Linked DNA regions of Homo sapiens: all the other regions are reported to be linked to region 1. Evidence: microRNA targets listed by miRTarBase, many of them from high-throughput screens and not tested one by one. Region 1 holds a microRNA gene; each other region holds the end of a gene's coding sequence.
Evidence for each region. The annotated mature microRNA hsa-miR-4777-3p reads AUACCUCAUCUAGAAUGCUGUA and lies in region 1 at 6,320-6,341, shown strand. An mRNA with a match to its seed (bases 2 to 7 or 8) in the 3' UTR can be bound and repressed. Matches are read on the target gene's strand: a 7mer-m8 pairs with bases 2 to 8, a 7mer-A1 pairs with bases 2 to 7 and ends in A, and an 8mer does both.

Region 1 (10,548 bases):
TTTGAATCAGAAATGTACAAAGTATTTTTTTTAATTTTTGAAAGGAAATTAAAAGGATTATGAGCAGTTCAGATAAGACTCTAATTTCCATTTGAGTAGGAAAAACAACAGAGGAACGGGTTGGATTCCTGTCTGAGAAACATCTGAGAACTTGCATCTGCTCACAATTGGATTCAGACGCTTCCAGGCCCAGGTGCAGAGCGGTAGCTAGTGACGAGTCAGCACTGGCTGGGTTATTTGCAACTCCTGGGTCTCTTGGTGATGAGCAGTTTCAGAGGTTTTGCCAGCGTTGATCATCAGTTATTTTACATGTGCTTTACTAAAGCTGTAAATATTAATATGCTCTCCAAAGGTGAGCAGCTTAGTAATTTATCCAGAGATTTCTGCTGCCAGGGTGGAGGTCTTAGGGGGCGTCTGAAAAGTTTTGCCAATTTGACTGAATGCCATTGAGTTAAAACATTTCAAGTTCTTAGGCCTGGACTTCCTGAAAGGCTCCACAGTACATTCAGGGTAACGTAGCGGTAACATCCTTGCTTTACCAAAATGACCACTGAGAGGCCCTTTATTTTTGCACTGATTGGACGTGCCTTTGGGAAGCTGTCATGCTGTTACCTGCAGGGCGGAGGCACTTGAGGTTGGCATGGATGGAAATGGCCAAGGAGCAGCTGCTGCAATGTTGATGTTATTGTTGTTTTCAAGAACAGTTTACTTTAGCCCTGACAAAGTCTGGGCCCAGGCACATTCCGGGTTCTTGCATGAACAGGGTGGGCACCCACCAGGACACTCAGCCTTGGTGGTCACGGGCGGTTGCCAGTGCTTCTTCCTAGGGAGGCAGCAGCTGCCCACCAGCCCCCAGATGGACCGGCTGGAGGCAGAGCAGTGCTTTTCCCAAATCCCGCTGTCAGTGCCCCCATTAACCTGCCCCAAATGCTGAGACCGTGTTCTGAGTGTCCCTTCCTTAAGCCTGCTCCTATTGGCTCAGCCTGGCTGGGACCCAGGACACGGACCCACGCAGCCCTGCCCTTCTCCACCTGCCAGAGACCAGGAATAGTCACTGCCCTCCCTGGCCCTGCCAGGCCCGCTCTGAGCCTCAGGCCAACACCCCTAGTCCTCCTTTTATTTTATTTTATTTTACTTTATTTTATTTTATTTTGAGACAAGGTCTCACTCTGTCCCCCAGGCTGGAGTGCAGTGGCCAGTCATAGCTCACTGCAGCCTCACATTCCTAAGCGATCCTCCCGCATCAGCTTCCTGAGTAGCTGGCACTACAGATGCACCACCATACCAGGCAAAGTGGTTTTCTATTTTTTGTAAAGACGAAGTTTGCTGTTGCCTAGGCTGGTCTTGAACTCCTAGTCTCAAGTAATCCTCCTGCCTGAGCCTCCCAAAGCACTGGGATTACAGGCGTGAGCCATCATGCCTGGCCCTCTTAGTCTCCTTTAAAATCCTTTTACTTGACAAAAAGTTCTTCCTTTGGAAAAACCAAGCCCCAGGTGCAGTTTCCTCTGGGTCATGAGTAAGCCTTTGCCACGCTTGGAGTAGATTCCATTCTGACCTTCTTTCAGACAGGCCTGCCCACGGCCTGTTGCGTCTCCCCAGTTGGCCTCCCTGCCCCTCTCCCTGTCCTGTCACCTGCCTCTGCCTAAGGGATGGATGGCAAACAGCCCTCTGCTTCTGTGCTCCATCTGGGCTTTGCAGATAGGGGGACTGCGGTTAAGTCCATTAAGCCAGGGTATGAATGAGGGGGAGGGGGATGAGCAGCAGGGACAGCAGGGAGTGGGCAGTGCTGGGCTGGGCATGGGCACCCCTGAGCCATGTTGCCTTCTGCTTCATTCCTTCCCTGCTCAGGAGCTTGCTCTGACTTCCTCCAGACAGTCCTGCTTCTCCATCCCTCCCCTCCACTTCAATTGATTGATTGATTGATTGATTGATTGATTGTAGAGAGAGGTGTCTCTCTGTGCTGCCCAGGCTGGTCTTGAACCCTTGGGCTCAAGCGATCCTCCCGCCTCGGCCTCCCAAAGTGCTGGGATTACAGGCATGGGGCCCCCTCCACTTCCCTTCTCTCACTCACCTTGCCCCAGGCCCATCCTGGCCCCAGGCAGCGCTCCCCACAGGTCTCCTTGCACACAGCTCGCTGCTGAGTCTGGCCTGTGCTGGGAACTAACGCCCCACCCAGAGACCCCGTGGAAACCCCCACCTTCACGCTGAGTTTCTTGAGGAAGAGCCTTTGCGCTTTGCGTTCAGTCAGCACCGCAGGGAAAACTCATGAGGAGGAACCTGTTGGACCCTCAAACTGCTTGATCGGTTGAGTGCAGGCCCAGAAAGTACATTCTAGGCAAAAGACAGCCCCAAATGCCAACAGGAAATAGTTCCCAAGGGAAAAGGCCAATAATATGGCTTAGCATTTTGCAGAACGTTGGCCTAAGGAAAGCTATTCTCATTTCCCCACCAACCAGGACTATCTTCAATATCAAAATCACATGCCTTGGGACTTCATAGCCCTGGGAGTTAAAATGCCCAGCCCTGTCTGAAATGGACCAGCAGGCAAGAGATACTACTGTCCCAGGAAGACCCCGGTGCACACCCATGGCTGCCCCATCTCCTAGCTCCTGGCTGTCTTAGTTAGGGGGGTCTCCTGTTTTTTTTTTTTTTTTTTTTTGAGATGGAGTCTCGCTCTCTCACCCAGGCTGGAGTGCAGTGGTGCGATCTTGGCTCACTGCAAACTCCGCCTCCCGGGGTTCAAGTGATTCCCCTGCCTCAGCCTCCTGAGTAGCTGGGATTACAGGCATGTGTTACCATACCCGGCTAATTTTTGTATTTTTAGTAGAGACAGGGTTTTACCATGTTGGCCAGGCTGGTCTCAAACTCCTGGCCTCAAGTGATCTGCCTGCCCCAGCCTCCCAAAGTGGTGGGATTACAGGCGTGAGCCACCGTGCTCAGCTGGTCTCTTGTTCTTGGTGGGACCTCTGAAAGTCTTCAGTGTGGCCTGTGCTGGAGGAAGTAGGAGAGGAGAAGGGGACAGTTGAACCAAGACCACCTCATGGTCTTGGGACACTCCAGCTCAGTTCCTCCTTTTTTATGACCACCCCGTCCCCTACGCTCACACCCCCTGGGAAGCTCCTGGTCCTGGTCCTAGAGGACTTGCCTGGCGTGGGCACAGCTTTGTGACTCCACACGTTGTAATGGGGTTCCCCTGCGTGTAGCCCAGCAATTCGGTGTGACTTCACTCAAGTATTCTCTTGTACACCTACGCTTTTTCTCCTGGCCTTATTCTAAGCACACTGAGCATGTGCCTCCTGTCCTGAAGCTCTATTTCTAGACCCAGATCCAGGTGGAGACCGCCCAGTGCCACCCGCTGGGTTCTGGTATCAGAAATAGATTCTCGTTTGGGTCAAAAGAGAATTATCTGGAAGTCAAAGCCCCTTGCTACAGGGAAACCTGCAGGGAAGATCCCTTTATATTTAAGATTAAACAGATCACATTGCAAAGCCACAGAGGAGCTGCTAAAATGAAAGAGCTGAGAGGAGCTTGGCCTAAGGGAGTCACGGATGCAGCCTCTGTCACAGTGTCGCTGCAGCAGTGACATGGACCCCTTCAGCTGTAGGAGAAGAGGAGAGGCGGGGTGGGGGAAGGGGTGCGTGGCATCTGAGATGCAGGAACATCTGTTCCCAGGCCCTTGGGGAGCCCTCCGTATGCTATGATGCTATCTGGGATTCTCCGTCTGCTTCCCCGTGAAGGGCTCCTGCGTGTCCCGGGTGGCCTGGTTCTGGGTGGGCATCAGCTACAGCACAAGTCACTGGGAGTTAGGGCACTTCCTGGCCACCCTGGGTGTACCGAGTGGTTCAGCATTAAGGAGCCTTGGGCTGCTCGGTGAGGAGCACCCTACCTCTCAGGTTGTTGGTTTTAGCAAATAAAACTACACACCACCCAGTTACATTTGAGTTTCAGATAAGCAAATGGGCCTCCACATTCTGTCTGGGGGCGCCTAGCCATGGCCCAGGGAGACAATTTGTTGTTCTGAGGGCTTTCCAGAGGCTGAGGGGTGCCAGGAAGGCTGAGCGGCCAGGGTGATCTGAACCTCCCTGGGCTGTGCCTGTCACCACCAGCAGTGTGCCTGCCATCCCCCGCTACCTGGCAAGTTCCCGGGCTGCACGAGTAAACAAGTATCCCAAGCCACAGGCGCCAGGGAGCCCGCAGGGCCTGGCCTGGGGTGCGTGCTTTTCTTGGCTTTCCAACCCAGCCCACGAGAGGGCATCCTTAGAGGGGCTCCAGAGCAGATGTGGACTGAACTTTCTCTCCTCCTCCCCAGCAGCCATCATCGCCAAGCCAGGAGAGTGGCTCCCAAGAGGACGCCAGGAAGAGCCTCGCCCAGCCCCCACGGGGACCCCCCGCCAGCCAAGGGAGGCGCCCCAGGACCCAGGCAATGGAGTGACCACCAGGTAAGGGGGATATCACAAGGCCTCGAACCTGACTCTCGGAGCTCTGGGAGTGGGCGCCCCACGCCGGATGCAGAGCACCCAGGAGACCTGGAAGGCTCCTCTGAGGCCCAGCCTCTGACAGGGGAGGCTAAGGAGCAGTGTCAAGATTCCCAGCGGAGTGCAGCCGCCACTCCTGACCACCTCGGAGGGCTGTGCTGCCTGAGAGCCATCAGTCAGACGGGAAGGACACAGCACTCAGAAGCATGCCCATGGGACTAGTTTTCAAAACTGCCAGGCGGACTTGTCCAGGGCTGGGTGATGGGGTGACTTAGGGACAGTGTCCTGTCAGCTTTTTGCATTTGGAGGAAGTGGGCTGTAGGGCAGAAAGATGGAGAAGGAGGTGAGTAAATGGTTTGGCTCAGAGGTCACTTCCTGAAACAGAAACTGGGCCTCCAGGCTGGGGCGTGGTGGCGCACGCCTGTAATCCCAACACTTTGGGAGGCTGAGGCAGGAGGATTGCTTGAGCCCAGGAGTTTGAAACTAGCCTGGGCAACATAGTGAGACCCTGTCTCAAAAAAAAAAAAAAAATCAAAAAACTAAAAAAAAAAAAAGAAAAGAAAAAACTGGACCCCCGAGCAGAAGAAAAAAAAAAATAGTGTCCTCTCTTCCACTGTGCCACGTGAGCACAGACTGGCCCTGTGGGTTATTAGGGGTTCTTTAGGGTCTAGAAAGGACCTTTCCAATCTCGCCAGCTCTTTCTTTTGGATCTGGAGAAACCTGCTCAGGGAGAGGGGCCTGGCCTGGGTCTCAGACCCTGCCTGTCCCTGACCACCAGGCATGCCAGCTGCCCCTCACCACTTCCTCCTGGCCATGAAGGAAGCCAACCTCCTGCGGTAAAATATGGGGCTGGAGCAGGCTCAGCTTAGTTCTGGGGGCCCCCGGAGAGGACAGGCAGGAAGACTGAGCAGAACCTGCACCCACTGGTGGAGAAAATCGGAGAGAGAAAGAGGCAGGAAGAGAAATCAATGGGGAGTGGCAGACAGGAGGAGGATGTAAGAGAAAGGGGGCGCAGACAAGTGTGCTGAGCTTCCTTGGGTGGGATGGGCTAGAAGCCGAAATCGGAACTGTGGGAAGGATGGGAAGGACTTCAAGACCTGGGCTAGGGAAGGGTGGGGGCAGTCCCAGCTATCTTTAAGAAGCACGGGGTCAAAGGTGGCTGCATTACTGGGGGAGGGGCCAAGCCTCTGGACTCCTCCAGTTCCACTGCCAACCTGCCTGGGGACCCAGGGACCTACCTCCCCTACCTGGGCCTCCTCCCCTCTTTCTGTGGCTGAAGAGGAGCTTGTCAGCTAGACCAGGGGTTCTCAGGCTCTCAGCATCCCCCTGAAATGGGGACTCAAAATGAGAGACCTCTGAGGAGTGGGCTAGAGCTATCTCATGCCCCCAGTCCAGACTGGATCCTCCCCTGCGGTTCAGCCAGGCCAAACCTACGCTTCCGGTATAGGCCACTTCTTTTTACTTCCTGCAAATGCTGAGTTCATTTCTGAGGCTCTCCACTGGGGACAGCCCTCTCTCCCCAGAAATAACTGTTTTCACAGTAGGTAGGCAGCCGACCCTGAGGGACCTCATTACATCAAGCAGCGTTGCCTAGCTGGCCCCCCAAGATTCTACTGAGCACAAAGACCCCTCAGGGTCCAACCCAGAGGTGCCCTCCCCTTGGTGTCAGTCACTGAAGCCAGCTCTTATTTTAAGCCTGGGAGTTCAGTGTGAGGAAGAAGAGGATGGAAGGAGGGAGAAGTACAAGTTGTTCCATCTTCCTCTTCCTCCCTCACTGGCAACGTCATCTAGAATATTTCGGCATTCTAGATGAGAGATATATATATACCTCATATGTATATGGTATACCTCATCTAGAATGCTGTAATATTCTAAATCACAAGTGGCCATCTCTTGTCAGGCTGACTTCAGCCCCAATTCAGGTCTCACTGAAGCATCCCTTCCTCCTGCCTGACCCCAAAGTGCGGGTCACGCCCTTCTGCCAGGCTCACAGAAGCCACAGTCCCTCCACGGGGCGGAGACCCCACTGTGTTGTCATGTGGCTGCCTCTCACTGCCTCAGAGACAAGCGCAGTGTGCAGGGCACAGAGAGCGTGCAGGGCCTGCTGGGTATACGGGGAATGCAGGGCTGCAGGGAGTGTGCACAGTGTGCAAGGTATTCAGGAAGTGCAGGGCTGCAGGGAGTGTGCAAGGAGTGCAGGGAATGCAGGGCATGCAGGAGTGTGCACAGAGTGCCAGGAGTGCAGGGCATCTGTGCTGTGCTTCTGCACCTGGCCTAGGTGGTTAGAGTACTTGTTGATGAACAAGTAGGAGAAAGGGAGAAAGAGTGGTTCTCTATGTGGCTTTGGTGGGGAACGTTTGTCCCCTCAACTTCCCCGAGCTCTGTTCTCTTGCTCTTTCAGGTGAGGTCTCATACCCAGAAGAAGAATTGGTGGATGGGCAGGAAGCCCTTGGGGCAGAGGTCTGGGGTCAGTGGTAGACTGAATGATGGCACTGTTACTTAGCCCAGGAAGCCCTTGGGGCAGAGGTCTGGGTCAGTGGTAGACTGAATGATGGCACTGTTTACTTAGCCCGGCTTTCAGGTGTTTTAAGGATAATGGCCACTCAAGCTCTGTGCCAGTGACTTCCAGCAACTGTCTTGCTGTAAAATTACTTTCTCGGAGGCTAGAGAATAAAAGTCTAGACCTGCCTGGCGCAGTGGCTCACGCCTGTAATCCCAGCACTTTGGGAGGCCAAGGCGGGCGGACAACGAGGTCAAGAGATCAAGATCATCCTGGCCAACATGGAGAAACCCCGTCTCTACTAAAAATACAAAAATTAGCTGGGCGTGGTGGCACGTGCTTGTAGTCCCAGCTACTTGGGAGGCTGAGGCAGGAGAATCGCTTGAACTGGGAAGCAGAGGTTGCAGTGAGCCGAGATCGCACCACTGCACTCCAGCCTGGACGACAGAGTAAGACTCCGTCTCAAAAAAAAAAAAAAAAAAAAAAAAAAAGCCCAGACCCTACAATCATGGTGCCTTCCCCCAACCCCCATGGTGAAATTTTCCTTTTCCTTTGTCAGCTTCTTAGACTCCTTAGATTAAGTAGCAGGATAAAACGAATGTTGACCAGCTTTAAAGATGTATTTATTAAGAAACAAATGCATTTATCCTGCGAAGAGCCAAAGTGCATCCCAAGAAGTATGTCAGTCCAGACCACAGAGGCTGAGTTGCACCCCGGAATGTGCAGGAAGGTGATGGCAGGGCTGCCTTGACTGTCACCTGTCAGTCCTTCTCAGCATGGCCCTGCCACTCCAGAAGAGCAGCCCCAGCCAGGTGTGGGGTGCTTGTGCCTGGAAGTTCACCTCCACGTGGCCTGAGGACAGGTGAGGGAGGTGGCTCTGTCTGAGGAGCTCCTCGCACTCAGGCCCAGGACAGGATCAGAAGCAAATGTCAAAAATCTTGTCCTGCCACAGATGAGAAGTGATTCTTTTGCAAGTGCTGTGACTTTTTTAAAATGAGAAGAGATTGTACATATGTCTACATGTATGCCTTTCCCCTCACGTTTGTCCCTGAGGATGGACAGCAGCTCCCAATGGCACATTCATGCATCCAGCTAAAGAAACAACACATGCTCATGCCTGGAATCCCAGCACTTTGGGAGGCCGAGGCGGGCGGATCACCTGAGGTCCAGGAGTTTGAGACCAGCCTGACCAACATGGTGAAACCCTGTCTTTACTAAAAATACAAAAATTAGCCGGGCATGGTGGTGCATGCCTGTAATCCCAGCTACTCGGGAAGCTGAGGCAGGAGAATCATTTGAACCCAGGAGGTGGAGGTTGCAGTGAGCCGAGATCACACCATTGCACTCCAGCCTGGACAACAGGGCAAGATTTCATTTCAAAAAAAAAAAAGAAAGAAAGAAAGTGGCCCTCGGCAGAGCATCAGGGAGCTGCCCCTTGGCCTGGCAGAGCCCACCCCGTGAGGCACCCTGACCACCTTGGGGGCTGCTTCAGGCAGTGCCTGTGTTGACCTAGGAGGCTGGGCCCCTATCATTGGATGCTCCAGCTGCTCTAGGAAGGATGCAGTGGGAGGTGGGGTGGACGGCTGTTGGTAAGTGTCAGCTGAGCCCCTGGTGGCCTCAGGGCCCTCCATCCTCCCAGCATGGTGAGCTCAGCAGCCTGGAGGCAGCCAGGAGCCAGGGCCAGGAAATGGCGCTGGTCTGGCCTGAGATGAGGCCAGATTAGGGCAGAGCAGAGAAACCATGTGGAAAGGAAGTCCAGGACGGCAGTCACCTATGACATAGGGGAAGTCACGTGCCGCAGAAACGCATGGGACTGAGTCCTGGAAAAAATGTAAAGGGTGATATACGGGAAAGTTGGGAGGTGCTCTGCAAGGTAGGCGATTGTTTATTAGAGCAGCCTGGCCCTTATATGATCTCAGCGTATCAATAGGAACATTGTGTTGGGAGGGAAGAGCCATAAAATGCCTCGGGAGATGCTGAGTCTTTCCCTGTGTTTGCAATGCTGCTGAGTCATAATCCGGCTGCTAAGCATCACCCAGCAGAGGATCCTGTGTCCCTTCTGTTTGCATTAAGCCCAAAGAAAAGCATTCAGGGCCCCTAGGCGACTCTGCCCAGAGGGTTCATAACCGGCTCTCAGTTATTGCTGCGGACATTTCATCTGGATTATAAGAAAACCCAGAAAGGGGCAGAGGTGGGGAAACGGGCCAGAACAGAATACAGCAGATAAAGGCAGATAGGAACCAGCCGCACACACAGCAGATGGGAACCAGCCGCACACACAGCAGATAGGACCCAGCCGCACACACAGCTCCCATGCCATGGGCACACACTTGGCGACACGTCTCAAGCTCCTCGGCCTCCTGGGGCTTCATGTGTCGTTTCTTTTTCTTTTTTTTTGAGACACAGTCTCGCTCTGTCACCCAGGCTGGAGTGCAGTGGCACGATCTTGGCTCACTGCAACCTCTGCCTCCCGGGTTCAAGCGATTCTCCTGCCTCAGCTATTTTCTCCAGTGCCAGTGGGAGGGGCCAGGCAGAGGGAGCCCCGGTCTGAGGAGGCTCATTCCCACCCCTCACAGTCATGTCCTAGGGAGAGGGGGACAGGCTTAAGGTGTATTAGTTAGGACTCTCCAGGGAAACAGAGAGGCTGATTTTAGGGAATTGGCTCATGTGATTGGAGAGGCTTGGCAAGCGCAGAATCTGATGGGGTAGACCAGCAGGCTGGAGAGTCAGGGGAGAGTTGCCGTTCAAGTCCAAAGGCCATCAGTTGGCAGAACCCCTTCTTGCTCAGGGAATATCAGTCTTTTTCTATTATGGCCTTCAGCTGACTGGATGGGGGCACTCATGTTACGGAGGGTGATCTGCCTCACTCAGAGTCCACTGATTTAAATGTTCATCTTGTCCAAAAAAGAACTTCACAGAAACATCTAGAATAATATTTGACCGAATATCTGGGCACCATGGCCCAGCCAAATTGACACATAAAAATAACCATTACGGGCCAGGCACGGTGGCTTATGCTTATAATCCTGGCACTGTGGGAGGCCAAGGTGGGAGGATCTCTTGAGGCCAGGAGTGTGAGGCCAGCCTGGGCAACATTAGCAAAACCCCACCTCTAAAAAAATAATAAAATTTTAAAAATTGGGCCAGCTGCGGTGGCTCACGCCTGTAATCCCAGCACTTTGGGAGGCCGAGGTGGGTGGATCACGAGGTCAGGAGATCGAGACCATCCTGGCCAACATGGTGAAAACCCGTCTCTACTAAAAATACAAAAATTAGCCGGGCATGGTGGCGGGTGCCTGTAGTCCCAGCTACTCGGGAGGCTGAGGCAGGAGAATTGCTTGAACCCATGAGGCGGAGGTTGCAGTGACCCAAGATCATGCCACTGCACTCCAGCCTGGTGATAGAGCGAGACTCTGTCTCAAAACAAAACCAAACAAATTTTTTTTTTTGAGACGGAGTCTCGCTCTGTCGCCCAGGCTAGAGTGCAGTGGCGCAATCTCGGCTCACTGCAACCTCTGCCTCCCGGGTTCACGCCATTCTCCTGCCTCAGCCTCCCGAGTAGCTGGGACTACA
Region 2 (7,506 bases), not on the chromosome of region 1:
ACTTTTCTAACCAGATTGTCTTTTCAGAACAAAGACCTGGGAATTGAGGAAGAGTTTGGAAAGAGGGAGAGGCAAGGAAAGAGAGCTTTAAATTGAAAGGTTAATTTCCTAAGAGGAACCTGGGCTGAATGACTGCAGTGTTATACCCTCCAATCTTTGCAGGTGGGCATGGAACACTGCTTGTATCACTCTGTGCACGGTATAAATCCATATATCCACAAAAACACACATCCATCCATCAACATATACATGGTTTGGGATGAGCAGGTCAATAGTTTTGAGAGGGAGTTTGTTCCTTTTTTTTTCTCATTATACTCTTAAATTGTTGTCAGTTATCAAACAAACAAACAGAAAAATTGTTTGGAAAAACCTTGCATACGCCTTTTCTATCAAGTGCTTTAAAATATAGACTAAATACACACATCCTGCCAGTTTTTTCTTACAGTGACAGTATCCTTACCTGCCATTTAATATTAGCCTCGTATTTTTCTCACGTATATTTACCTGTGACTTGTATTTGTTATTTAAACAGGAAAAAAAACATTCAAAAAAAGAAAAATTAACTGTAGCGCTTCATTATACTATTATATTATTATTATTATTGTGACATTTTGGAATACTGTGAAGTTTTATCTCTTGCATATACTTTATACGGAAGTATTACGCCTTAAAAATACGAAAATAAATTTTACAAGGTTTCTGTTTTGTGTGGAAGAGTAATTGATGTTGCTAAGAATGATGTTTGTTTTTTTGGGGTTTTTGTTGTTTTTTTTTTAAATGTTACCAGCACTTTTTTTGTAAGTTTCACTTTCCGAGGTATTGTACAAGTTCACACTGTTTGTGAAGTTTGAATATGAAGGAATAATTAAAAAAAAAAAAACTCTTCTCTTGGTTTCCTATTGTGTCTTCTTTATACTGTAGTTTCTGTTTTAGGCAGTTCTCCACATTCTTTCACACATTGTATTCTATGTCTAATCTGAGATTATTTATCCAAACTGAGGACTCTACCTACAAGGCCAGAAAAACTCTGAGTATATTAGTCTTCTCAATACAAGAAGTAGGAACTACAGACAGGATTGGTGATGTCGAAGTCACTTTGAGGAAATATAAAGCAAATTGGTGTATTGTCTTATACATATTCAAACCTCAAAAATGACAAGGATCACTTATTGCTCTACAAATTGATTCACATTTTTTCCTTTTCCACATGCAAATCACAGTCTGCCTGCTGTGGAAATAATCAATCCCATATTATAACACTATGCCCACCTATTCTTGTTTCCACCCATCTCTGTTATCCATGAATCTATCACTGAGTCTCCTTTTTAACTTTTGGGTTTCTCAGCTCCATATGCAAAAAAGGAAAGTTCATGGCACAAAACATGCCCCTCTTTAATGACTTTGGAGACTCATAAGGGACTCCTATTTGGCCCATAGATTCTTTGTTATAGTGACCCTGGCCATAAAGAGCTCTCTGATCTCATCATTCTTACAGAAAGTGCTAATATGGTGAAGAAAACTTATATCTTGTTTGTCCTTGGTGAAGTCAACACAAATTAAATTCACAATGTCTTCTGTATTTCAGTCAGCACTGTGCAATGTATGAATAAAAGAGAGGAAATTATTTCAGCCATGAGAAGGCTTAAAATCTAACAACTAGACATGAAGAGAGGTTTGTATAAAATCAAGAGCTAGATTGTGCCATTCAGACTCTCAATGCCAAGGGAGTTTCTAAACTAACAGGAAGTTGATAATGGCTAGAGTGAGTCAAGAAAGGGTCCAAAGAATAAGCGGTCTAGTTTGGGGACTCGCAAGAACACTAAGCTTTGAGTTGGAGAAGCTGAGTGTGGACAGACATTTCCACCAGTGTGAGGAGCACAAAAATATCCAGGCATGAGCTTGGGATGGGGAGAGTCATCAAGAGACCTCTAGACTGAAAGGATGTCAATAAATTCCTGAGATTTCAACATTACCACTGTGAATTTAAATATTTACTTCTTGCAACTCAATTGCTGAACTTCTAAGTCAACCTGATTGATAGTCTAGAAGTATAAAGAGGAAGAAAATATTTTCATGATGCATAATTTGTCTCTATATCATTTCTGTGAACCAACATCTTCTTAACAATGCCAGCCAGCTTCACCCAAAGTCTTGGATCTCTCTTTGCACTATCCACACACTCTTAAGTTTTCTTCTGTACCTGTTAAAAACATTGTGGTGCGATTTATATACAGGCTGTAATAATTGTAAATGACACATACGCTACTCATATGGTACTTCACAGTTTACAAAGTTTCTCCTTAATATCCTTCATCTTCACAGTTATACTGTAAATATTGTGATGTAGCTATGATTGCACTAATTTATAAAAACACAGGTTCAGAAATATGTGTTTTTCCAATAAAAAACAATAAACTAGTGCCTGAGGTCAGGTTTTCTGAAATCCAATAATATTTATACCATACCATTATTCTCAAACTTGAGTAATGTGTGTATGCCCATATGAAGGAAAAAAAATAGTTTCACAGACCTCCTCAATGGGAGGCGATAATAATAAAATAATTATTCTTATTATAATATCTAGTAATAAATTCATAATATGCATAATTATTTTATTATAGACATTCTTAAATAGGCTCAAACACAACGACAAGTGAACTTACTATGCTTATATCCCTTGTAGAATTATAAAACTACAAGTTACTAATTAAGTACAAGTAAAACTATAAAATTAGTAATGTCTACAATAACAATGAGTGCATAGAATGATGCTTTCCTGAATCTAAGTCATGGCTCACAAAGTTAAGTGTACTGCACACACCCTTCTGAATACAACATCCCTACACTACAGTGTGCAAAGTAAAGCAATTATCGCTTCACTTTCCTGTTAGTTCAATACTGCAAAGTCTTCCACTTCTCCACCCATCTGGGAGTAAATGAATCATTTATAAATTAAGCTTCTGTGCCTTTAAATAAACTTGATTATAATCAAGTTTATATGTATAAACACAAACATAGAGGCTAAAACCAATGACAACACTCTGTTTTAAGAAGGCTATCAACATCCAGATATAGATGACTTCTTTGAAGATTATCATTTCACTTAAAACACACAATGTTTAAACGCTTGCAGAGAACTTGTGGACCCCAAGGCTGTATCTGCAACTCTTAGCTTTCCTTATATCTCAGTTTTTAAGAACATTGATTGATAGATAATTTCAGATACCTCAGTTGCTCCAAGCCAGTTTTGTTGCCTCCATGAAAACTTCTGTGGCATCATTAGCATTACCTGGTGCACGTGTTCCTGGGGCAGAACACAATAATATTAACCCAGCATCTTGCAGCTCACAAAGCAGTCAGCCACGTTCCTGCCTCATCTTCTTAAGAATCTTAGAAAGATAGTAATATTACCATTTTATAAATGAGGAAATATTTATGAGTCTTTGATAGGTTAAGTGGCTTATCCAAAGTCGTGAAACTAATTGCAGAGCTCAGCACTTGGACCAAGTTTCTAAATTCCCTGTCCACTACACTCCATGATTACTTCTTTTTTGATCTCTGTGAAGTCCATCAGAGTTTTAGTCCCAGAGAAGGTGCTCTTCACAGCCTACATGAAGTCAGAATGAATATAGTCTATGGTAAGTCCTGTGATGACAGTCTATTTCTGCATAACCCCTATGAGTTGCAAATTTCTTGACAATTTTGGCCCTATTTACATGAACTGGACCACTTAGCTGCCTCAGATTTTTTTTTTTGAAAAAACCTGAAATAAATAAATGTACAGCCTGCTTTGACCTCATGGTTTGTCTCGATCAGAGGATGGATATAGGAGAGTAGAGGAGAACCTTCAAGTTTCTTCCTGGTGATAGCCATTTCAAATGCATAACAACTGGCGAGCCATCCAATGTCCTATAAACACAGCTGTCTGTGTTTTCTCTATATGCAAGGCAATTACTAGAATTGGAATGTCCAATATACTAGCCACCAGTCACATGTTGCTATTTACATTTAAATTTGTTAATTACAATGAAATAAAATTTAAAATTCAGTTTCTTTGTCACATTAGCCAAATTTCAAGTGCTCAACAGCCACATGCAGCTAATGGCTACCATACTGGATGGGACAGACATAGAGCATTTCCATAATTGCAGAAAGTTCTTTGGATAGCATTGTCCTACACTACCTTATGCAAATAAATTACCTCAAACATTGAGTATATCGTTGTGACTTCCAGAAAGCTCAGGCTCTTGCCACACAAAAAGCTCCCCTGTACCTCTTGACAGGTGTGACTTGGAGTAAGTGTGGGAAACTACCAGTTACAGCTATGAAGCAGCACCTGAAAGAATCAGGAGACTAAACAAAACTCACACCCCACAAATGACAGCCACACTGCCCATTGCCCCCTCTCTGTGGGGTGAGGTGTGCCCACCAGAATGCTGTCATTGGTGGACCTCACACCCAGCCTCCCTGCCTGTCCAGCTCAGCACTGATGGAATCTGAATGAACCTGAGTGTATGACGACTCATTTCTGGGGCTCACAGTGGTGAGAAATGAAAAGGGGAAAAGGCAGGAAATAAAATTGCATAGTGAGGTCCTGTTCACTCATGAAGACCATCTATCTCAAAGCTCCATGACTCAAAGTTTCTCACGTTTCTTTAGTATAATTCTCAGGATTATAGATCAGACTTGTACGCCCAGGCTTAGAATGTGGTCAGGGAATCAGTAATGTATTCCTCCTTGAATGCTCATTCATAGATTTGTCTATTCGCTCCTCCTGTTAGGGAATCCACGAGGGGACCCAGAAAAGCCTGGCATCGCTTCCTGTCAGCACTGAGTGTTCCCCTTCCTCAATCTTCTCTGTGATGCTTCCCTACATATTTCCCAAAAGACATCATAAGCAGGAAAATCTTCCTCAAACACTATTTTGAAAGAAAAAGAAATGGAGACCAATAGACATAGATAGACACCCTCCCTGGGTATCAGTTTGGCTTGGGTTTAGCTACTAGAGCAGCACAGTCACATAGAAATATGAGAGCCACATATGCAATTTTAGACTTTCCAGTAGCCACGTTAAAAAGATAAAAAGAAGCATGAAACTAATGTTAATATTTTATTTCACCCAATACATCCAAAATATTATCATTTTTGACACACAATATACCAAAACTACTGAAATAGTATTCTTATTATTCATATTAAATCTCCAGAATCTAGTGTGATTTTATGCTTATACCAATTATAACAGCACATCTTGATTTAAACTAACCCCATCTTAAGTGGTTGATGGCCACATGTGGAAAGTGGCTACGTGGTGGATAGCGCATGTCTCCAGGAATCCAACTATGAAATGGTCTTCTCTGGTTCTCAGAGGAGAATCTAGTTCAGTGAGTTCTATTTAAAAAAATTTTTTTCAAATTGAATCCCATTTCAGTAACCTGACCCATTTCTAACATCTATAGGCCCTTTTGTATTTTATCACCATCCCAATAGTGTTTATAAATGTTTCCCAATTACCATAATTATGTTAAATAACACCCAACTCTCAGTCCAACCTCTGCCGAATATACACCTCCTCCAAATCAAAACACTACTCCCTTTTCGTCATTACATTTTAGTTCACTTCCAATTTGTGAATTGTGTTCTATTTCCAACAGATTTGCACTAATTTTGCAAGAAAAATGCTGTAAACTGCCACAGCAAACAACAACATTTTTACGTTCATCTAATCTTTCTTCCAAAGGACTTGGAGCTCTGGACAGATTTCAGTTCATTCTTCCTATGTAACCCATTTGGTAGAAAAGTGAAAAAATAATAATAATAAAAATCCTAGGAGAAATAGTTGAATTGTCTTGTTGCTAAAACAATTGTCAACCCCAGTCTAAGTCTTAGGAAGCAGGACAATGCTTTATTTTTAACCATGCGCAAGACACAACCTTGCTTCACATTCTCTTTCAGTTCCTTGGCCCATGAAAGAAAATCAGTCACCAGTAAATCCAACCTCCCCGCTCATTCCTCTGAGAGAGATGGTGGAAGGATAAAAGTCTTCTAAGATCCAGCCTGAATGCAATTAAACAGAAATAAGCGGTTCAGTTACCCCAACCCCAGCACAAAGTCGTCAGGGAGTGAATAAAAGGGTTCGAAGAAGTTAGTTTGAAGGTGTTTATTTTTTAAACCCTCTATCACTCCCAGCCCCCCTTTTTCCCCTAGGAAGAGTCCCTATTTTAAAAATCCACATTTTCTTTTTAGTGGGAAACGTTCTTTTTTCAAAGGCTCAAGAGTGTATTGATGCAGAAAAGGTAGATCAAGGCCCAAATGCTACGACTTGGCTCCCTGTGTGGGCATGTGCGTTTCCTGGGGCTTCCCCAGCACACACGGCCGGAAGAGGCTACAGGCCTGTATCAGGCTGTCTAATGGATGAGTATGTCACAGCAAAAGGAAACTTGAAATGCCTGCCCAGAGAATAAAATCTGAAGTTTGCTGACTCCCTTGGTGCCAGGGCCTTCTTTGTGGGACTTTCAGCTCCAAGAATTTCCTACAAGTTCCCTAGACAAAACTCCTGCTCCTCCCAGACTAGCCTCAACATCCCCTTGGTGCTCCCAGGCCACTTCATCACAGATAAGCCTATGCCAACTACCTCACCCCAAACTGTCGTCTCTTCCTGAAGGCCTGTGTATGTCTCCTTCTCTCCTTACTATAATACCTTTTCATGACAACATTGTCTCCCCATTTAACTGTAAGTTCTTGAGGGCAGATACCAAGATTTAGTCACTCTCAAATCTCCCCATAGAGGCTGCTACCAGGACTTACTTATAACCTGCCTTTGAATGAGTGAAAGTTACTGAAAATGACGTGAAAAAATGAGATGAGGATGGCTCTGCAGTCATGCCATCCTCATCATCAACCACAAAACCTTGTAGCCCAAAATGCTGGCCATTATGAGGAATGTGTCTCTCAGAGACATAGGATCTGCTCAAACTGCCAGATTTAAAACCAGGTCAAGATATTTTTTAATTTTGCATTTATGATCAAGATCCACGTTACTCACCCTAGGCCTGCCATAATGCAAAATGGAATAGAACGAAAAGGCCAAGGAAATGAAGATGGAGAAGAGGATGACATTTATTCACTCAACTGAACACACACACACATACACACACACACACACACGCAGCACTGATGGAGAGTACAGCTGCTTATATATTCATCTATAATAGCAAAGACAAAAGTGTATCTTCCAGAAGATGCCTCTGGTTGCTAACCAGTCTCTGTGAAGAAGCTGCAGTTACCCAGGCTTCTGTAACTCAGGACATTGAAGTAGTCATGCAGCTCGGCACAGTCCTCTCCCCGCTGCTCTCCACAGAGCCCAGCAGGTGCAGCTTCTGCCTGGACACAGCTTCCTGGGGGTGAGGGAGCACTGGGGCTCCATTCCTCCTGTCCAGCTGATTTTCTCCTGAGGTCACCTTCCACAGAATGGATTCTGAGGGCTTTCTTCTAAAAACAAACAAA
Region 3 (10,548 bases), not on the chromosome of region 1:
GGACTTCTCTATGCCACACTGGGAGGTGTGAAGGTGTAGGCTTTAGGGCAACCCCTCTGAGAAGGGGTGGCAGGTGGAGGAGCCCATTGATCCTTTCTATCAGGGATGGATTTGCTTTCTGTGGGTGTCACCTTCAGGGGCCTGTGTTCCCACTCATCACAGGAGCTCATATTTACTCAGTGGGGCCAGAGTGTTCTTCATACATGGTGATTTTACTCCTCACCATAACCTCCGTGGTGCGTGCTAACATGACCACCATTTTGCAGATGAGAACATGGAGGCTTGCAGGGGAGGTAAGTTGCCCCAGGTTCCATGCTGAATCAGAGGTCAAGCTCAGCACACAGCACAGGACCAAGTCTGCTGGTTCCCAAGCTCACATCCTTACCTACAACTCTGAATCACCCCACAGCAGAGTCAACAAGCTGGCCTGGCATGTGAAGAAGCAAGCCTGGGTGTCTCCTGGCTGCCAGTGCCATCCCTGCCCCGGGACCCTAATCCACAGTTTGATTCTGGTCCTTTTGCCCTCTGTCCCTCACCAGAACCCTGATATTTCCAGATGAAAACACGAGTATAGCTTATTTCCACAACTCACCTGGGCCCAGCAATCAAGATCTATAGCTATAGGGAAGTATTGAGTTGATTATGAGTTATATAGGTCAAAATGAGTAGCTTGCTTGATTGAAGCAGGTAATTCGTGCCATACTTTTCTCTTTGGGAAGACCTGTACCAACAATAACCTCTGCTAAACACTTTCGCTTTTTTAAATTTGCAGGTACTTTTTTGGGGCTGTCTTTGGCTGCCTGTCTGTTGAGAGTTTGTTTTCTTTACAGTCCATCTGATTTACAGTCCCTCCGGGTTGATTTGTCTCATTTGGGAATGAGAAATTTTATTTTAATGCATTAAGTAATAGTGTTGAGTGGCCAACAAATGTGAAGTTTGAAAAGCTCAAATGAAAAAAAAAGTGTGATAGAAACACAGAGTTGGGGGCCGGGTGCAGTGGCTCACACCTGTATTTCCGGCACTGTGGGAGGCCAAGACAGGAGGATCCCTTGAGCTCAGGAGTTTGAGACCCCTGGGCAACATGGCAAGACCCCAAGACCCCATCTCTACAAAAAAAATGTAAAAATCAGCCAGGGGTAATCCCAGCTACTTGGGAGGCTGAGGTGGAAGGATTGCTTGAGCCCGGGAGGTTGAGGCTGCAGTGAGCTGTGATCGATCTACTGGACTCCAGCCTGAGTGACAGAGCAAGACCCTATCTAAAAAAAAAAAAAAAAAAAAAAAAAGAAGAAGAAGAACACAGGTTGGAATTTGAGGGGGCCTGTTAAATAGGATGCTCTTTCCTGCCTTAGTTTTGAATTAATTGAGAAGATAAAATAATAAGGCATGGAGATTAGAGCATCCCCTTTCTTTTTTTCTTTTTCTTTTCTTTTTTCTTTTTTTCTTTTTTACTTTTTGCTCTTCTTGGCCAGGCTGGAGTGCAATGGCACAATCTTGGCTCACCACAACCTCCGCCTCGCGGGTTCAAGCAATTCTCTTGCCTCAGCTTCCCCAGTAGCTGGGGTTACAGCCACGTGCCATGATGCCCAGCTAATTTTGTATTTTCAGTAGAGACGGGGTTTCTCCATGTTGGTCAGGCTGGTCTCGAACTCCCCACCTCAGGTAATCCACCCGCCTCGGCCTCCCAAAGTGCTGGGAATACAGGCATGAGCCACCAGGCCCGGCAGCATCCCCTTTCTTATTGATAAAGCAGATCTTGGAGAATGGGAGATCCTGAGCGGGGTTCCTAATGCTAGCCTTCAACATCAGGCTGAGGCTCACCTTGTCTTCAAGTAATGGGCAGTGCTGGCCTGAAGGGGAGCCTCCTCTGTCCAGGGCTCAGCTTATCCTTGGAAGGCTTAGCACATTGAGGAGCTGCTCCAGGCTAAGAGGGAGGGACTGGGGTACTCTGTAGAGGTTGTTCTTCCAGTTTCTTCAATCAGATGAGCCACACTGTCACTCTAGTGTTGAAAGGAGGGAAGGGACAGAGGTGGCCAGGAGTGTGACCCTAAAAGAGGCAGAGGAGACCTCAGAGAAAGAGAAGAAGCATTCTCCTAACCAGAGGGAGAAGGAGAGAGGCCTCAGTTCTCCCTCTCTGGGAATTAATTTGAGATTTACATTTAGTGTCTATAAACATGTCAGCAGATATATAAACTTATTTGCTTTTGCTTTGTTTCCATTTTTAGATTCTTGAGTATCAGAACACCACCTTCTTTGGTGGAACCTGTATATCCATGATTGATTACCTCCTCTGGCCCTGGTTTGAGCGGCTGGATGTGTATGGGATACTGGAGTAAGACATTTGACATTGTGGTGTTAAATTCCCGGAGTCACACTGAGTAACAATGGTTAAGATGGTCTGCATGCCCCCTGTAGACATGTTTCAGGATGTCTGTGAAGTGAATCAGGTTTCTAAACCGCAGTGTGTGCTTCCTTGTTAAAAACATATGTGCTTTTCCACTGCTAACTTCAGACCCACACTTTGCCCGCATTTCTGCAGATCAGACCCCTAGCCCAGGAGCCTCCCGCAGACTTCAGAGCCTGCTGTCCTCACCAGCGCCCCCACATGGCCGGTCTGAGAGCAAGTGGAGAGTCACAGTCACAGTCACAGTGCCCAACGCCTCCACCTGGTCCTGACGGGTCCCCAGGGGACACCATATAACCTTAGTCATGTCTCATTGCCCGGAGGAATCTTCCCCCAGATAGGAATAACCTTATAAAAAAGATTTGTGTAGTAATATATGCTTGATATTGGAACATACAAACAAAATGGCAGTGACACACTATGGAAGTATGGAAGTGCAGGGACATTAAAGGAGAAGAAATAGCTGTGTAGGCTCCTGGGCAGAGCAGTGCTGTGTTACTTCAAAGCTCAGTGAAGCTGGACGTGTGCGGACGTCCACCCTAATCCAAGCCACCCTCATGGTGGGTGCTGGACATTTCTGGCACTTGGAAATCCGGCCCTGCTGAAGCAGAACTGTGTCTGCACCTTCATAACCCGTGGGCTGGAGCCCAACCAGCCACTGTCTCCTGCACTTCCGACTTCAGCTCTCTTTGTCAGGATATTTAAAACTCAATATCAAACATAAAATTTACAAAAGGCTGTATCCTCTGAAGACAGAGCATGGAGTCACAGGTTAGGAAACCTCACTTCTAGTCCTGGATTCCCGACAACCCATTCATATTATCTTCAGCTTATTGCTTTATAAACCCCAGAACTAAATATCCTGGTTGAGCTTTGAAAGAGCCCTGTCGGCTCCATGACTTCAAGGTTTCATCCTTGTTTTATTCATTTAAAAAATGTTTTAGAAATTATTTGTCTTTATTTTTTTATATCTCCTAAAGTAAAATCTGAGAATGACCCAAGAATATTTGTTTCAGAGGGTTGTCTTTTTGTTGGCAAGCAGTGAAGCACATGTAAGTTTCTCAAGCTTTAGAATATATATATATTAAAAAACAAAACAAAAAAAATGAAGCACAGACATGTTATTTTCCCAGAGCCATCAGTCCAAAGTATTTCACTGTATTATTAGAAGCAACAACTTCTAAACATTCAACTATTCCAAAAATAAGATTTTCCTCCAGTAAGTTATCATTCTCACTTGATAATAAGATAACTAAGATAACTTCCCAAATAAACTCATTCTTCATATCTTGCAAATCTAAAAAGCAACGTGCATCCCCTTTCCTGATGCCTACCCCTGCACTGTGCTGACGCTTCTTTCCTGTCTTGCAGCTGTGTGAGCCACACGCCAGCCCTGCGGCTCTGGATATCAGCCATGAAGTGGGACCCCACAGTCTGTGCTCTTCTCATGGATAAGAGCATTTTCCAGGGCTTCTTGAATCTCTATTTTCAGAACAACCCTAATGCCTTTGACTTTGGGCTGTGCTGAGTCTCACTGTCCACCCCTTCGCTGTCCAGAATTCCCCAGCTTGTTGGGAGTCTACGTCACGGCTTGTCTTGGGAACCAATCCGTCTCTCTTTCTTTTCTTTGAAGTTCCCAATAAAATGAAAACAGGAAATGTATTCTTCTGATAATCATTTGTCTGACTCCTCTAGCCTGTAGCTGCTGCTACTGCTGCTTTTTTTTCCTTTTTTTTTTTGAGGCAAGATCTTGCTTCGTTACTCAGGCTGGAGTGCAGTGGGACAGTCGGCTCACTGCAGCCTTGAACTCCTGGGCTCAGTTGATTCTCCCGCCTCAGCCTCCTGAGAAGCTAGGACTACAGGTATGTGTCACCACGCCCAGCTAATTTTTAAAAAAATGTTGTTGAGACAGGGTCTCACTATGTTGCTCAGGCTGGTCTCCATCTCCTGGCCGCAAGCCATCCACCCAACTTGGTCTCCAAAGTGTTGAGATTACAGGCATGAGCCACCTGGCCTGCCTAGCCTGTAGCTTCTAACTATTTTCTAGAAAGTGCCTGGTGCTAATGTCAGAGCACATTTTGGGAGCCTGTGTGCCTCCTAACTCCTTGGCCTTCAGCCTAGTTTGATCTCCAGATTATTGGTGCAGATGCTGATGCTGAGGTTCAGGGTCAACCTATGACTGATGCTTGTCACTACAGAATGGCACCCTCCAAAGACCTCCCTGGTGAAAGCTTAAGAAGAGGGAGAAGGAAGAAGAAAACACTCCAAACCTAAATACCTTCCATTTGGCAAATGAATGTCGCTGTCCACGTGGGCGAGTATGAGTGTAATTCTCCAAACTTTGGCCATGGGCCTGGAGACACCGAGGGTCTTGTGACTGGAAAGAATTCCAAAGCAGGAAATGAAACACCGGTTTATCACCCAGGACTAACTACGTCAGAATTTCACTGGTGCTGTCAGGGCTCAGGATGTCTCACAAAATGTTCTATAGCCGGCATCCTGCCTTAAAAAAATACACACGCCCCAAACCCAGCCACAAGCAAAGGTCATTCCGTTGGATTTGCGTCACACTCTCTTCCAATTCATCTCAACAAATGCCTCTGGTTGCCTGTTGTGTACCAAGCCCAGGGGCACACTGGGGATAAAGTTGAAAAAGACATTGGCTCTGTCCCTGGGAGCCCCCATCTCTCCACTTATCTTGGTTGAGGTTTTAAACCTAGCGCTTTGGAGCTGCTTGTCTGTTGTAGGGATGCTTGTCTCTGATGTGGCCCCTCTGCCAGCTTCGCCAGGCAGTACCACCCCACTGAAGACAGCAAAGAGCTGAGGATGGCTGGTGCCAACAGGTCCCTTGGGCTGGGAGCATCTACTGCCTGCACTATGGGAGGGGGACCAAGTTTGTCCAATGCTGTTTCATCTCAGTGTCTGAGGATCAGCCTGTGATCATTTCAGCTTTGCTCATGCTGGATCCTTTCCCATCCTCCTAGCTGTGCTGAGACACCAGGCAGCAACAGGAGCGATGTTTTGCCTTGTCTGTGCTCCCTAAGGAGCTGTCTGCCACCTCTGCCTCTGAGACAGCCCAAATCAGCCCTCCTCTCTCCCCACGTCTCAGTCTGGCCCTGCCATCTGCTGGCTCTGGGTATATTTTGACCCATGTAAATAGTTACCAGGTGTTACTCTGTGCCAGCTGGACAGAAACAAGCCTGCTTGGTGAGGTGGCCAGAACTTCCAGAAGAGGCAGCGCATGACAGGGGCAGTCTGCCGCACCATCTGCTCCGGATGTGGAGCCCTGTTGCCATGGCACCCTAGTTAATGCTGAGTGAGGTCTGTGAATCACCGTTTTCCTGGGATCTTTGCTCCAAGAAGAGGGGAATCTTCTCCTGTGGCCTCTCATAGGACTTAGGAGATTGATCAGCCTTTTGCCGGTACAAATCCTGCATGCTAGTGAGTGCTTGTCATAAGACCAAAGTTACCACTGATGCAACAGGAAATGGCATGCCTCTGGCTCACCAAAATGAAGGTGTTCTCTTTTGGGGCTCCGCACACTAATTTAGAAAGCTTGAAGAACCAGGAATTATAGAATGGAGAAAAGCACTCATGGGGGAGGTTTGCAGCCTGGTGGCCTATAGCCCAGTTTGGGATTTGAGTGCCTCTTGGCCAGGCATGCTCCCTGCTGTTTACCAGGGTCCTGGTCACCTGCACATCCTTACACTTCCTCCATCTCGCTTCTTTGTCACTTGTCTGACCCACAGAGAAAACTGAGTTATCAATCTTTGAATAAAACTAGAAGGATGTGGCCTGGAGAAAAGAGGGAAGGAGGTAATTAAATAATGCTCCATGAAGAACTTTAAAAATATGCTTCTTAATTAATACATGTGGAAAGAATACATATGGGTTAAAAATACAATAATGTAAAAGAATAGAAAATCTTCCATTATCTTGTGTCCTAGAGATAACCACTTTTAGTAATTGGTGTCTACCTTTTTTTCCCCTTTTCTTTTAAATAATAGAGATGGGGTTTCGCTATGTTGACCAGGCTGGTCTTGAACTCCTGGCTTCAAGTGATCCTCCCATCTCGGCATCCCAAAGTGCTGGGATTATAGGTCTGAGTCATCATGCCTGGTGGGTGTCTATCTTATAAAAAGCACTAAACTTAAAGATTTAAAGGTGAGAGCCTGTATTAGGCCATTCTCATGGTGCTATAAAGAACTGCCCAAGACTGAGTAATTTATAAAGGAAAGAGGTTTAATTGACTCACAATTCCACATGGCTGGGGAAGCCTCAGGAAACTTTCAATCATGGTGGAAGGGGAAGCAAACATGTCCTTCTGCACAAGGTGGCAGAAGAGAGAAGTACAGAGCCAAAGAGGGAAAAACTCCTTATAAAACCATTAGATCTCATGAGAACTCACTCACTGTCATGAGAAAAGCATAGGGAAAACACTCCCACAATCGAATCACCTCCCTTGAGGTCCCTCCCCCAACATGTGGGGATTATAATTCAGATTAAAATTGAAGATGAGATTTTAGGTGGAGCACAGCCAAACCATATCAGAGCCATTCTCTATCTTTTGCAGATTGGAAAAATAAAAAAATTAGTTTAAACCACAGCATTTAAAAGAAATGGTCATAGATGATGTTAACATCAGAATGGAGGTTGTGTGGAGTTCCCCTCCTTGGAGGTTCTGAGCTACAGCCTAGCCTGGACTCAGTCCAGTTACAATCTAACATGGCTAGGGGGAGGAGGGAGCATGATGGGGCAGGGCTTGTGTGGCTGGGACAGCTGGCTATGGTCGTGGTGCTGGTGACTAAATGGTACTTGAAATTTCTTTTAGATCTAAAATTCTGTGATATGGTTTGGATCTGAGACCCCACCAAATTTCGTGTTGAAATGTAATCCCCAATGCTGGTGGGAGGTGATTGGATCATGGGGGTAGATTTCTCATGAATGGTTTAGCACCATTCTCTTGGTGCTGTTCTCATGATAGTGAGTGAGTTCTCATGAGTTCTGGTTGTTTAAAAGTGTGCAGCATCTCCCTGACCCCTCTTGCGCCAGCTCCCACCATGGGAGATGCCTCGCTCCCCCTTTGCTTTTTGCCATGAGAGGAAGCTTCCTGAGGGCTCTCCAGAAGCAGAATCTACTACACTTCTCATACAGCCTGCAGAACCATGAGCCAATTAAACCTCTTTTTAAAAACACTTTTATTTTAAGTTCAGGGGTACATGTGCAGGATGTGCAGGTTCGTTCCATAGGTAAACATGCGTCATGGGGTTTGTTATGCAGATTATTTCATCACCTAGATATTAAGTCTAGTATCCATTAGTTATTTTTCCTGATCCTCTCCCTCCTCCCACCCTGCACCCTCTGATAGGCCTCAGTGTGTATTGTTACCCTCCACATGTCCATGTGTTCTCATGATTTAGCTCCCACTTATAAGTGAGAACATGCAGTTTTTGTAAACCTGTTTTCTTTAGGGAAAGTTTAGAATTTTCTAGAGACTGGTTGTATGGTTGTGACCAAAATGCCAGTAGTGATATGGACAGTGAAGGCCAGGCTGAGGAGGTGATGGAAATGAGGAACTTACTGGGAACTGGAGCAAAGGTCACTTTTGTTATGCTTTAGCAAAGAACTTGGCTGCATTGTGCTCCTGGCCTAGGGACCTGTGGAAGTTTGAACTTGAGAGTGATGATTTTAGGGTATCTGGCAGAAAAAATTTCTAAGCAGCAAAGCATTCAAGATGCGCCCTGGCTGCTTTCAACAACCTATGCTCATATTTGTGAGCAAAGAAATTATGTTAAGTTGGAACTTATATTTACAGGGGAAGCAGAGCGTAAAAGTTTGGAGAATTTGCAGCCAGCTATGTGGTAGAAAAGAAGAGCCCGTTTTCAGGGAAGGAATTCAAGCAGGCTGCAGAAATTTGCATAAGTAAAAAGGAGCCAAGTGCTAATGGCCAAGAAAATGGGGAAAAGGCCTTGAAGGCATTTCAGAGACCTTTGTGGCAGCCCCTCCCATCACAGACTCAGAGGCCTAGGAGGACAGAATGACTCTGAGTATTAAAGTAGATTTAATCTAAATCATAAAGTACAAGCTAGAGCAATCCCTCCAGTGCTGCAGAAACTGCCTGCATGTGGCTCCCACATTGTTTCTTGGAGCTTTGGTGGTGGTAGGGGTGGCAGGGGCAGGTGTTATGTTTCTTGGTTTCTCACCTTCAGGTCTCCTTACCCATGTTTCCTTTGTCAGAGTCATTGGCCTTGATGGAGGGGAGACTGGGTTACTCTGAGTTGAGAAGCAAGCTTGACTGCCCTGTGGTTTATATCAGCCTAGCTTAGTTTGTTTTCTGAAGTCTTCACAAATAACCAAATATCCAGCCCAGTGCAGTTCTCAATGAGTAGTCTCCAGTTCCCATCCCCCACCACACACACACACCAAACACTGTGCCCACCTGGGAGACCCATTTTCATTTATCTTCTTCTTTGAGTGCCTGGAAGGCTGAACATTTGATCTTTTCAAACATTTTTCTCTCATCTGGCCTGTTAGCGCTCTTGAGCCTTTGAAAATGCCATTTCCTCTACATACTATTCTTCCTCAGAGCAGCCCTCTGTTTTTTTTTCCAACCAGTCTTTTCTCTTGCAAAGTTCAGATCAAAATTCTTCTTTATGTAAAGAGAAGTGGCGTGCCATAGGGGTTACAAACAGGGCTTCAAGGTTAGCACTGGGATCAAATTCCGACTTTGCAACTTAACTTTCTTGAGTAAGTTGCTACACCTCTATTAGCCTCAGTTTCTTATCTGTAAAATGGGACGGCTAAGTACCTATTTCATTGGGCTGTTGAATAATGATGGTCTCATCTATGCAAGGGCTTAGTACCAGCTGGGTGAAACTCAGTGAATGGCAGGCAACCCTATTATGACTAGGCTTCTGCCAATGATCAGACTTGAACCCTGTGCTCATCCCCCCATCACTTTGTGGAACTAGATGTCCTACGTTGCACATGGCTTGATTCATGGTTTGGAGTTGTTTTCTGGTTGTTTCCTGTGTGCAGGTTTAATCTCAACCTGTGATCCCTTGAAAGCTGCAATTTTATCCCTCCCCGTCCTCCTCCCTCTCACCCCAAGGCCAAGTTTAATACTGTGCATTCTGAAATCTTGCAATGTTGATGATGTAAAATAAATCTTCTCTCCTGTGTTTCTGAAGAATACTCAGAATCTCGCTACTCTGTTAAAGAAAAAAATCATTCACTGACACTTGTTTAAAGCATGTGAAGGAAGACTTCCTCATAACCATCACGGTAGGTATCGGGGCCGCTGCAATGAGACTTCTGCAGTTGGGGAGGGAGATTGGGCTCAACTCTGAGTACAAGACGAACAAGTGGGTATTTATAGCCCAGAAGTAGAGCAGAGGTCAGTGGATTGAAAATCACTCGGAGGAAACGTCAGGGATAAGGAGGATTCTAGCTAAACTGACCTAACAGGATTCTTGCTGAAGACAGGCCAGGATGATCAGACATCACCAGAGGGCTGGCGGAGGACAAGGAACTTGATCAGATATCAAGGATGATCTGATACTGAGGTGGGGGAGTTCTTTTGCCAAACTAACTTAGCAGGGTTCTTTGCTAAAACAATTTTACAAGGACACGCACAGATGAACCTAGGAGGAGGTTCAGGAGCCTGACTAAAGTTTGGTCAAGCAGAGAATCTTTGTCTCCTCTTGGAGCAGGTTATCTCTTTCCAAGGGTTAAAATGTGAGGGATTTGAAATGCCTGCAGGCCTGCCCAGTTACCAATCAGCTTGGATGCTGAATGGAAAACTAAAGCACACCAGTACCATGCTGCGCATAGACAGGATGGTTACACATGTGCTCCAGGGACAAGAACTGTGCAATACTCTGCCCTGCCATTTCCTCCCAAGGATTCCTGCCATGCCCAGGAATCCCCTTGCAGACAGCAAGGGTCTCTGGCCTACTTTGTCATTAGCAGACAGCCCCCTCCAGAGGGAGCAGTTGAGCAGCAACAGTCAGCTCCCTGCTATAGAAGCCAATACGAAGAGCCATTTCCAGTCCTGTCCTGGGGCTAAGATGGACAAAGCAATGGAGGTAGTAGTTGCTTAGTGATGACGCTGCCCCCCAGGGAACCCTGAGTAGGGGCAGCCTCTG

Region 2: miRTarBase lists TIGIT as a target of hsa-miR-4777-3p. Seed matches in the 3' UTR shown: 7mer-m8 at 6,632-6,638.
Region 3: the mRNA of GSTO2 is a reported target of hsa-miR-4777-3p. Seed matches in the 3' UTR shown: 7mer-A1 at 6,215-6,221.

The regions. Positions count from the first base shown.
Region 1 is chr2:231,356,445-231,366,992 of GRCh38, forward strand. MIR4777 (microRNA 4777) reads left to right here and starts at 6,264; the gene lies at 6,264-6,349. ARMC9 (armadillo repeat containing 9) reads left to right here. Exons shown (of 25, transcript NM_001352754.2): 23 at 4,310-4,439. RefSeq lists a silencer at 4,053-4,347 and an enhancer at 4,225-4,868.
Region 2 is chr3:114,307,880-114,315,385 of GRCh38, reverse strand. It overlaps TIGIT (T cell immunoreceptor with Ig and ITIM domains), which reads right to left. Exons shown (of 4, transcript NM_173799.4): 4 at 5,098-7,491. The coding sequence ends at 7,255. It overlaps LOC124909411 (a long non-coding RNA gene), which reads right to left and starts at 3,307. Exons shown (of 2, transcript XR_007096008.1): 1 at 3,227-3,307; 2 at 1,974-2,200. It overlaps ZBTB20 (zinc finger and BTB domain containing 20), which reads left to right. Exons shown (of 12, transcript NM_001348800.3): 12 at 1-886. RefSeq lists enhancers at 6,281-6,460, 6,631-6,680, 7,434-7,506.
Region 3 is chr10:104,295,356-104,305,903 of GRCh38, forward strand. GSTO2 (glutathione S-transferase omega 2) reads left to right here. Exons shown (of 7, transcript NM_183239.2): 6 at 2,223-2,329; 7 at 3,773-9,595. The coding sequence ends at 3,929. Among named protein-coding and RNA genes, the nearest start is that of ITPRIP-AS1, 23 kb to the right of the region's middle. RefSeq lists enhancers at 3,878-5,077, 4,894-5,395, 5,396-5,895.